Linked DNA regions of Homo sapiens: all the other regions are linked to region 1. Evidence: fine-mapped QTL for protein levels in blood plasma. A gene starts in region 1. Each other region holds a variant in brackets. All regions are shown on one strand. Distances are between the middles of the regions.

The links. PIP is the posterior inclusion probability: the model's chance that the variant is causal. The UK Biobank Pharma Proteomics Project read protein levels with antibody pairs (Olink). The fine-mapping took linkage between variants from a reference panel, not from the people measured, so its PIPs are less certain.
Region 2: its variant is fine-mapped to the plasma level of the HPSE protein (UK Biobank, PIP above 0.99). The variant lies in the coding sequence of HPSE. If it changes the protein, the assay may bind it differently, which can mimic a change of level.
Region 3: its variant is fine-mapped to the plasma level of the HPSE protein (UK Biobank, PIP above 0.99). The variant lies in the coding sequence of HPSE. If it changes the protein, the assay may bind it differently, which can mimic a change of level.
Region 4: its variant is fine-mapped to the plasma level of the HPSE protein (UK Biobank, PIP above 0.99).

What each region holds. Positions count from the first base shown.
Region 1 is chr4:83,333,691-83,336,378 of GRCh38, reverse strand. HPSE (heparanase) reads left to right here and starts at 1,531. Exons shown (of 12, transcript NM_001098540.3): 1 at 1,531-1,823. The coding sequence starts at 1,597.
Region 2 is chr4:83,294,446-83,297,133 of GRCh38, reverse strand. HPSE (heparanase) reads left to right here. Exons shown (of 12, transcript NM_001098540.3): 12 at 1,631-2,688. The coding sequence ends at 1,790. Among named protein-coding and RNA genes, the nearest start is that of COQ2, 11 kb to the right of the region's middle. The variant C/T (reference allele first, on the strand shown) is at 1,638.
Region 3 is chr4:83,305,113-83,307,800 of GRCh38, reverse strand. HPSE (heparanase) reads left to right here. Exons shown (of 12, transcript NM_001098540.3): 9 at 1,484-1,598. Among named protein-coding and RNA genes, the nearest start is that of COQ2, 22 kb to the right of the region's middle. The variant G/A (reference allele first, on the strand shown) is at 1,501.
Region 4 is chr4:83,301,117-83,303,804 of GRCh38, reverse strand. It overlaps HPSE (heparanase), which reads left to right. Exons shown (of 12, transcript NM_001098540.3): 10 at 1,537-1,655. Among named protein-coding and RNA genes, the nearest start is that of COQ2, 18 kb to the right of the region's middle. The variant A/G (reference allele first, on the strand shown) is at 1,532.

The DNA of each region.
Region 1 (2,688 bases):
TTGGCCTCCCAAAATGCTGGCATCACAGGCATGATGGCATCACTGGCATCACATACCATGCCTGGCCTGATTTATGCAAATTAGATATGCATTTCAAAATAATCTATTTTTATTTGTTGCCTTATTGGTGGTACAATCTCAAGTGGAAAAATCTAAGGGTTTTGGTGTTATTTGCTTACTCAACCAATATTTATTAGACTCTTACTAAGCACCAACATGATCACATGCCTGAGCTATGGCTAGCATAGCGTGTGAGACAAACTTAATCTCTGTTTTGGTGGAGCATATAATCTAGTAGATGAAGCCAATGTTGAGCAACATCACAATACTAACAAATTGAGGATGCTACGAGAGTGTCTAACAAATTGAGGATGCTACGAGAGTGTCTAACAAATTGAGGATGCTATGAGAGTGTGTCATGGAGAGCTGCCTGGAGATTGAGAGAAAGCTTCCTTGAGGGAAGTTACATTTCAGCTGAAACACACTGCCATCTGCTCGAGGTTTTGTAACTGCATTCACATCCCGATTCTGACACTTCACATCCCGATTCTGACACTTCACCCAGTTACTGTCTCAGAGCTTGGGTCCGCATGTGTAAAACAAGGACAGTATGCACTTGGCAGGGTTGTGAGAAGGGAAGAGAACACAAGTAAAGCACCTGTATCAGGCATACAGTAGGCACTAAGCGTGCGATGCTTGCTATGATTATACATCAGTGTAAGCATCAAGGAAAAGCTGAAGAAAAGTCTGACCAACAGCGAAAGATAAATGCGCAGAGGAGAAATTTGGCAAAGGCTCCAAATTCAGGGGCAGTCCGTACTCTACACTTTGTATGGGGGCTTCAGGTCCTGAGTTCCAGACATTGGAGCAACTAACCCTTTAAGATTGCTAAATATTGTCTTAATGAGAAGTTGATAAAGAATTTTGGGTGGTTGATCTCTTTCCAGCTGCAGTTTAGCGTATGCTGAGGCCAGATTTTTTCAAGCAAAAGTAAAATACCTGAGAAACTGCCTGGCCAGAGGACAATCAGATTTTGGCTGGCTCAAGTGACAAGCAAGTGTTTATAAGCTAGATGGGAGAGGAAGGGATGAATACTCCATTGGAGGTTTTACTCGAGGGTCAGAGGGATACCCGGCGCCATCAGAATGGGATCTGGGAGTCGGAAACGCTGGGTTCCCACGAGAGCGCGCAGAACACGTGCGTCAGGAAGCCTGGTCCGGGATGCCCAGCGCTGCTCCCCGGGCGCTCCTCCCCGGGCGCTCCTCCCCAGGCCTCCCGGGCGCTTGGATCCCGGCCATCTCCGCACCCTTCAAGTGGGTGTGGGTGATTTCGTAAGTGAACGTGACCGCCACCGAGGGGAAAGCGAGCAAGGAAGTAGGAGAGAGCCGGGCAGGCGGGGCGGGGTTGGATTGGGAGCAGTGGGAGGGATGCAGAAGAGGAGTGGGAGGGATGGAGGGCGCAGTGGGAGGGGTGAGGAGGCGTAACGGGGCGGAGGAAAGGAGAAAAGGGCGCTGGGGCTCGGCGGGAGGAAGTGCTAGAGCTCTCGACTCTCCGCTGCGCGGCAGCTGGCGGGGGGAGCAGCCAGGTGAGCCCAAGATGCTGCTGCGCTCGAAGCCTGCGCTGCCGCCGCCGCTGATGCTGCTGCTCCTGGGGCCGCTGGGTCCCCTCTCCCCTGGCGCCCTGCCCCGACCTGCGCAAGCACAGGACGTCGTGGACCTGGACTTCTTCACCCAGGAGCCGCTGCACCTGGTGAGCCCCTCGTTCCTGTCCGTCACCATTGACGCCAACCTGGCCACGGACCCGCGGTTCCTCATCCTCCTGGGGTAAGCGCCAGCCTCCTGGTCCTGTCCCCTTTCCTGTCCTCCTGACACCTATGTCTGCCCCGCCAGCCGCTCTCCTTCTTTTGCGCGGAAACAACTTCACACCGGAACCTCCCCGCCTGTCTCTCCCCACCCCACTTCCCGCCTCTCATTCTCCCTCTCCCTCCCTTACTCTCAGACCCCAAACTGCTTTTTGGGGGGTATCATTTAAAAAATAGATTTAGGGGTTACAAGTGCAGTTCTGTTCCATGGGTATATTGCATTGTGGTGGCATCTGGGCTCTTAGTGTAACTGTCACCCGAATGTTGTACATTGTATCTAATAGGTAATTTCTCATCCCTCATCCCTCTCCCACCCTCCCACCTTTTGGAGTCTCCAGTGTCTACTATTCCACTAAGTCCATGTGTACACATTGTTTAGCGCCCACTCTAAATGAGCCTTTTTGTTTCATTCATTCTGTAAGTGTTGAATAGGCACCACCTAAGGTCAGGTATAAGTGGAAATTTGAAAAAGAAACTGCCCACTTGCCCCAGTACTTCCCTAGCCAAGAGGAGGGAAACCAGGCAGGTGCACCTGAAGGCCTGTGAGTGCTTGATTTGCTGTGCAGTGTAGGACAAGTAAGATTGTGCATAGCCTTCTGTATTTAAGACTGTGTTAGGAAGATTTCTCTTTCTTTTCTTTTCTTTTTCTTTTTTCTTTTCTTTTTTTTTTTTTAGGCAGATGAAAAGGGCGTCACAGAACAGGAATAAAAATCTAAATATTCAATAAATGAGACCTAGGAGACTACTGCAGTGACTTACAAAGTCCTAATAAAAAGATGTCTCTCCAAAATGGGGCTGCAAAATGTGGTGCTGCCTTATCAGCTCTA
Region 2 (2,688 bases), 39 kb after region 1:
CTTAACACAATGGCAAGCTATCATTGTGTTAAGTAGTTGTGTATCTAAACATATCTAAAACATAGAAAACTAATGTGTTGTGCTACAATGTTACAATGACTATGACATTGCTAGGCAATAGGAATTATAATTTTATCATTTTATGGAACCACACTTATATATGCGGTCCATGGTGGACCAAAACATCCTTATGTGGCATATGACTGTATACATGTACACAAAAAATAGATGAAAGAATGAATATACATCAAAATATTTAAAATGGTTATAATGACTTAGGTTACTTTTATTTATCTTAGTAATAATAATGATGATAGATAATACTTTTATAGTGTTTACTATATAAAAGACACTGTTATAAGTGTTCTACATACTTTACATGTATTACCTAAATGATATAAATATAACTCTGACAGTAACTAATCTTATACGTTCTCTTTTCTTTTTTTTTTTTTTCTTTTTTTAGACAGAATCTTGCTCTACCAGGCTGGAGTGCAGTGGTGCAATCTCGGCTCACTGCAACCTCCGCCTCCCAGGTTCAAACGATTCTCATGTCTCAGCCTCCTGAGTAGCTGGGACTACAGGCACACACCACCATGCCCGGCTAATTTTTGTATTTTTGGGTAGAGATGGAGTTTTGCCATGTTGGCCAGGCTGATCTTGAACTCCTGGCCTCAAGTGATCTGCCTGCCTCAGCCTCCCAAAGTGCTGGGATTACAGGTGTGAACCACTGTGCTCGGCCTAATCTTACAAGTTTTCAATATTTAAAGAGTGCTAACTTTGTTGACAATATAAAACATATTTGAGAAAAAGAGATATAAGCATCTTATTTAGAATTATGAAAATATCAATAGACCTACAGCCGACTAAAGCTTTTCTTCATAAGCTCTTGCCTATATTGATTCGCTCCTGTGAATATGCATTAATTTGATTTAAATAATAAGTATGTATAAGAAATAACACTTTTCCTTAATTTTTAAGAACGTTCAACAGTTTTTAATTTGAATTCCAATAGTGAAATACATAGAAAATATAAAATTTTCTGTAGTTTAGCCAAATTGTTTTTGTTTCACCACAGCATTCTACCAAAATTTCTTAATAACAGTAAGAAAATGAATGCATACCTCCTGCAGGGAGAGGGGAGTTAGGCAGTTTATGGGCATAGTTACAAGTGAGAAATTTCATTGGCTACCATTTATGCTAAATTCATAAAAACTGCATTCAATTCTATATATCTATTTTCTTTACATAAAAAAGGTTTCAATTATTGGCCATTAAATAAAATAGCCACCATTCCAGAAGTTGTGTCATGTTTATCCTTTTTATACCACCATCATATTGCCTAGTATATAGATTGTGTGTGTTCCATTTTCTGTAATGGGCCAGACAGTAAGTATTTCTGGCTTTGGAGTCCATATGGTCTCTATCATAACTACTCATCCCTGCCATTGTAGCTTAAAGATTATCTAGGTCAAATGCCTAAGTGATATAGTGTTGAAATACAAGTTATATAATATAGGCTGCCACAAAAAAAAATTTATTTGGTCTAAAAAAGATTTCATGACTTTTGTAGCAGCATGGGTGGGGCATGCACCACTTGGTTAACTCGGTGTATCTTTCTCCTTTGCAGATCTGTC[C/T]AACTCAATGGTCTAACTCTAAAGATGGTGGATGATCAAACCTTGCCACCTTTAATGGAAAAACCTCTCCGGCCAGGAAGTTCACTGGGCTTGCCAGCTTTCTCATATAGTTTTTTTGTGATAAGAAATGCCAAAGTTGCTGCTTGCATCTGAAAATAAAATATACTAGTCCTGACACTGAATTTTTCAAGTATACTAAGAGTAAAGCAACTCAAGTTATAGGAAAGGAAGCAGATACCTTGCAAAGCAACTAGTGGGTGCTTGAGAGACACTGGGACACTGTCAGTGCTAGATTTAGCACAGTATTTTGATCTCGCTAGGTAGAACACTGCTAATAATAATAGCTAATAATACCTTGTTCCAAATACTGCTTAGCATTTTGCATGTTTTACTTTTATCTAAAGTTTTGTTTTGTTTTATTATTTATTTATTTATTTATTTTGAGACAGAATCTCTCTCTGTCACCCAGGCTGGAGTGCCATGGTGCGATCTTGGCTCACTGCAACTTTAAGCAATTCTCCTGCCTCAGCTTCCTGAGTAGCTGGGATTATAGGCGTGTGCCACCACGCCCAGCTACTTTCTATATTTTTTGTAGAGATGGAGTTTCGCCATATTGGCCAAGCTGGTCTCGAACTCCTGTCCTCGAACTCCTGTCCTCAAGTGATCCACCCGCCTCAGCCTCTCAAAGTGCTGGGATTACAGGTGTGAGCCACCACACCCAGCAGTGTTTTATTTTTGAGACAGGGTATCATTCTGTTGCCCAGGCTTGAGTGCAGTGGTGCAATCATAGATCACTGCAGCCTTTTAACTCCTGGGCTCAAGTCATCCTCCTGCTTAGCCTCCCAAGTAGCTAGGACCACAGACACATGCCATCACACTTGGCTATTTTTAAAAAATTTTTTGTAGAGATGGGGTCTCGCTATGTTACCCAAACTGGTCCTGAACTCCTGGACTCAATTGATCCTCCCACCTTGGCCTTCCAGGTGCTGGGATTTCTTTGGGAGTACAGCATGGTACAGCAGGAGATCATTTGATGTTACCTCTGTGCAGT
Region 3 (2,688 bases), 29 kb after region 1:
ATCCTCATTCTTATAAGCCTAGAATACATCACAAATCCTTTATGCCCATGGAAGCAAGAGGAATAAAGAATGGAGATGTTTGTTTTGCCATTAACTAAAGATCTGGGGTGTCGGGGAGAAGGGGGATAGAGAAGGAGAAGTGGGAAGAGGTGTCCATAATAGCTTAGGTGCAATTCTGCTTATTTTACATTTTACCCCCGCTGACTGCCACTTTTTCTTCAGCCCTCACACATTGTTTGTGCAGGGACCTCATAGGACCAGGAATTGTCTATAGAGGTGGGAATTTGTCTCACCCTGAAAGGGATACCTCTAGCATGGTAATAGTCTTCTAGGATTTGTTATCATATGGAAAGATGTAAAGGGAGGGATTCTGCTGCTGCTGCTGCTGCTGCATGCAGTTGCCATTTCATTTAAATGACTTATTTATAATTGATGACACTTTTCTGGCTTCCTGTTAATTCCTCCCTCAAAGATCAATAAACCAGAACCAGGCATGGTGGCATGCACTTGTGGTCCTGTAACCACCCAACAGGTTCACCTTGCCTGCTGTCTAGATAGAGCCAATTATCAAGACAGGGGAATTGCAAAGGAGAAAGAGTAATTTATGCAGAGCCAGCTGTGCAGGAGACCAGAGTTTTATTATTACTCAAATCAGTCTCCCCGAACATTCGAGGATCAGAGCTTTTAAGGATAATTTGGCCGGTAGGGGCTTAGGAAGTGGAGAGTGCTGGTTGGTCAGGTTGGAGATGGAATCACAGGGAGTGGAAGTGAGGTTTTCTTGCTGTCTTCTGTTCCTGGATGGGATGGCAGAACTGGTTGGGCCAGATTACCGGTCTGGGTGGTCTCAAATGATCCACCCAGTTCAGGGTCTGCAAGATATCTCAAGCACTGATCTTAGGTTTTACAACAGTGATGTTATCCCCAGGAACAATTTGGGGAGGTTCAGACTCTTGGAGCCAGAGGCTGCATTATCCCTAAACCGTAATCTCTAATGTTGTAGCTAATTTGTTAGTCCTGCAAAGGTAGACTTGTCCCCAGGCAAGAAGGGGGTCTTTTCAGAAAAGGGCTATTATCATTTTTGTTTCAGAGTCAAACCATGAACTGAATTTCTTCCCAAAGTTAGTTCAGCCTACACCCAGGAATGAAGAAGGACAGCTTAAAGGTTAGAAGCAAGATGGAGTCAATGAGGTCTGATCTCTTTCACTGTCATAATTTCCTCAGTTATAATTTTTGCAAAGGCGGTTTCAGTCCCAGCTACTTGGGAGGCTGAGACAGGAGGATTAATGGAGCCCAGGAGTTTGAGGTTGCAGAGAGCTATGATCACGCCACTGCACTCCAGCCTGGGTGACAGAGTGAGACCCTGTCTCTAAATAAATAAATAAGTAAATAAATAAATACATAAATAAAATCAAGATGGTGTGCAATTAGAATTGAGCGATTTTGTTTCCAAACCTCAAGAAAGCTTGGTCTTGCTCTGTCCCAGGTGGCTGGATAAATTGG[G/A]CCTGTCAGCCCGAATGGGAATAGAAGTGGTGATGAGGCAAGTATTCTTTGGAGCAGGAAACTACCATTTAGTGGATGAAAACTTCGATCCTTTACCTGTAAGTGACCATTATTTTCCTAATTCTAGTGGAGTAGATTAAAGTCAACTCAGGACCTCTGGTGTTAACCTCCTATGAACAGTCAGTCCTCTCAGTAACTAGCCAAATCATGAGATGATGAATTAGAAGGAGCCTTAGATAGCATCCAATCTAACATTTTTTTGTGTGTTTGAAGAGAAGAAATCAAGAGCTAGGAATAACTTTTTAAAGGTAAGCCATTTGCAGTATAGTGTGGATTTTGTTTAAAAGGGGATAATTTGAAATTTTATGACTCATTATACAAGACAAAATAAGTTGGATTTTCAAATGTTTTACAAAGTAAATCAAAGTTATAATTGCCTACAGTACGCAAAGCTTCAAAACATTTTTTATGTTATGAAATTGTAATTTATTTAACCTTAAAATGAGCCAGTACCATGTGTTTGCTTAAAAATCTCATGCTAAGAATTTACTATGTTGTTAATAATCTTCAAGATATTTATGAATAAAGTCTTATTTCTAATCCTTCCTCCAACTGTATCTGGTGCTAAATCAGGAAATGTTTCTTCCCAAAAAGCCTCGTGGAAGATCTGTATGTCTAAATATATGTCAGGGATAATACAGATGTAGCCCTGAGAAGCATGACCTTGATTTTTATAGTCTAAAATGTCATTTGCAGATATATATTTTCTAAGAATAATTCCTAAAAGAATTATTTGAATGTTGTAGGAAAGCTAAGAAATTTTGCAAAGAGCGTACGTGAAAATATAAGCTAGGCTTTTGTGGTTTGTGGATAGACTTCCCAACAAAATTGCTTTTTATCTATAGTGATCCAAGCTTGTGGAACATATTAGTCATCTTTTTTTAGAAAATTCTTAGAAAAGTGATCTTGCAAAAATGGAATTTATCTTTCCCCAAGTATATTCTGTCATGTATAGAGTTAAACTAAGCATAGTAATTTCACCAGACAAACATTCAAAATCTACTCCTGACCTTTTTATCTCATCCAAATTTTCCCAGGGCCCAGACATAAACCTTTGCCTTACGAACTCTTTGTATATGCACTAAATATGCTTCTCCTTCAAGGTTCTCAGTCAGCTAGAAAAATGTG
Region 4 (2,688 bases), 33 kb after region 1:
GTAATCCCAACACTTTGGGAAGCTGAGGCAGGAGGATCACTTGAGCCCAGGAGTTCAAGACCAGCTACGGCAACAAAAAATCAAAAACTTATCTGGGCATGGTGGCACATGCCTGTGGTCCCAGCTACATGAGAGGCTGAGGCAGGAGGATCGCTTTAGCCCAGGAGGTTGAGGCTGCAGTAAGCTGCATTCACACCACTGCACTCCAGCCTGGGTGACAGAGTAAGACCATGTCTCAAAAAAATACATATTTTAGTATGTATCCTTTTTGTAAAAACACAATACTTTTATCATACTTTAAATAATAACAATAATTCCTTAGTATCACCAAATATTTTGTCAGTGTCTCACATTTTCCTTGTCTAAAATATTGTTGATAGTTATTCAAATCAGAATCCAAACAAGGTCCATATATTACATTTGGTTGATAAGTCTCTTAAGTTTGTTCATCTTTAAGTTATTCCTCCCTCTCTTTCATCTCTTGTAATTTATTAATGTGAAAAAACAGGTAATTTGTTCTATAGTATTTCCTACATTATAGAGTTTGCTAAATTTATTCCCTATGATATCATTTAGCATGTTCCTCTGTCCCCTGTGTTTCCTGTAAACTGGTAGTTATACCTAGAAGCTTGAGTTTATTCAGGTTTTTAATTGTATTTTTTTGCAAGAATTCTTTATTATCTGCTTCTGGAAGCACAGAATGTCTGGTTGTGTCTGGTTTTGATCTTGACAGCTACTGATGACCATTGCCTAATCCATTACTTTATTGGGGTGGGGGGAATAAGGTTTTAAAATAAATTTTTTTTTAAGATTTTTTTAACTGTTATTTTGAGACAGTGTCTCATTTCGTTTCCCAGGCTGGAGTGCAGTGGCACAATCACGGCTCACTGCAGCCTTGACCTCCTGGGATCAGGTGATCTTCTCACCTCAGCCTCCTGGGTACCTGGAACTACAGGTGCACACCACCACACCTGGCTAATTTTTTGTATTTTGTGTACAGAAGGGGTTTCATCATGTTTCCCAGACTGGTCTTGAACTCCTGGGTTCAAGTGATCTACCCACTTCAGCTTCCCAAAATCCTGGGATTACACTTTGGCCACCGTGCCTGGCCTAAATGAAATTATTTGTCTCTAAACAGACAGAAGTTTTACTTTAAAAATTTGTCTTTGTGTGTACATGTGTTTGTGTATGTGTGTGTGTCTAAAAGTTTGGCTTTGAGCTTTGCTTTGAATTCTTGGATGAACGATAACCAAGAATACTTAAACTCTGATCATTCTTGACAGATATCCCCTACAGGCTATGGCCTTTTGAATTGTGTCCTCCAGTGATAAAAAGCAGCAAGCACGATACTGCTCTCAGATTCATGGTGGTCACATGTGAGGGGAAAAAAAAAAAAAAGATGAATCCTATTTAAATGCCCCCAGGATAACAGTGATACTCTTTGTAGGATAACTATTTGCTTGCCACTGGTTTCATTAAATAAGGACATAAGTAAACATCTATTTTTGTCTCTTTCTCCCCAACCACCACA[A/G]CTAGGATTATTGGCTATCTCTTCTGTTCAAGAAATTGGTGGGCACCAAGGTGTTAATGGCAAGCGTGCAAGGTTCAAAGAGAAGGAAGCTTCGAGTATACCTTCATTGCACAAACACTGACAAGTAAGTATGAAACACACCCTTTACCAATCATCAAGTTTTAGTGGGTAAGCCTGTAACTTTACTCAAACACCCTGTTGCATGTGTCTATACATTGCATAAGTATAGGCAGTTGCAATTTAGTAAAGTTTTATACAACGATTTTATTTTATTTTATTTTTAGAAGAAAAATGCTACTTTTGTTGTTGTTGTTTTTTGAGACGGGGCCTCGCTCGTCACCCAGGCTGGAGTGCAGTGGTGCAATCTCAGCTCACTGCAACCTCCGCCTCCCGGGTTCAAGTGATTCTTGAAGAGGAGAACAATAATAACAACAATATTATTTTCAAAAGTTGTGACCGCAGTTTCTGGAGTTGAGAAGACATCGAGATTTTTGTAGCCTCATACTCTTGCTTTAGGTAGCAAAAAATGTTCCTAAATCTCAGGAATATTCTCTAGATAGGTTTCAATCTATCATTCCTGATAAGATGATGCTGAAATACTAATTCTAGCCAAAAAAGACCAGCTACCATTTCCGATTGTTGGTGACTGGGAACTCTGGATAGTGAGGACCCCAGTAGGAAGTAGCGAGGGGAATGGTTTGAATGGATAAATTCATAAAAAATGTCAGTAGATTTAATTTTCTTATACATTTCAGTCTTTTTATAAGGCTAGGAAAAGCCCCTGTTTTTATGGTTTATAATTTGAATTCACATGAACCCACAAAATTTGCCTTTTACCTTCCTATGTCTGAAAATGGATAGTCTGGCTGGCCTCTTAACAACCCAGCTGGCAGAGCTGTGAGGATCTCAGTGTGCTCTAGCCCAGACATTGGTAGCATGAACGGCAACATTTTTAATTGTGTTTTCAAAATAGGAGCACACTAGCGGTCTAAAACGATCATAAAAGAAGGATACTAAGAGGGCCCACTGTCATTATGGATCCTAATACTTAGGATGCATTATGGATTGTCATTATGGATACTAATACTTAGGATCACATTTGTAATTGAGTTTTTAATTGCTTAAATTAGATACATATTTCTATTAAGTTAACCTCT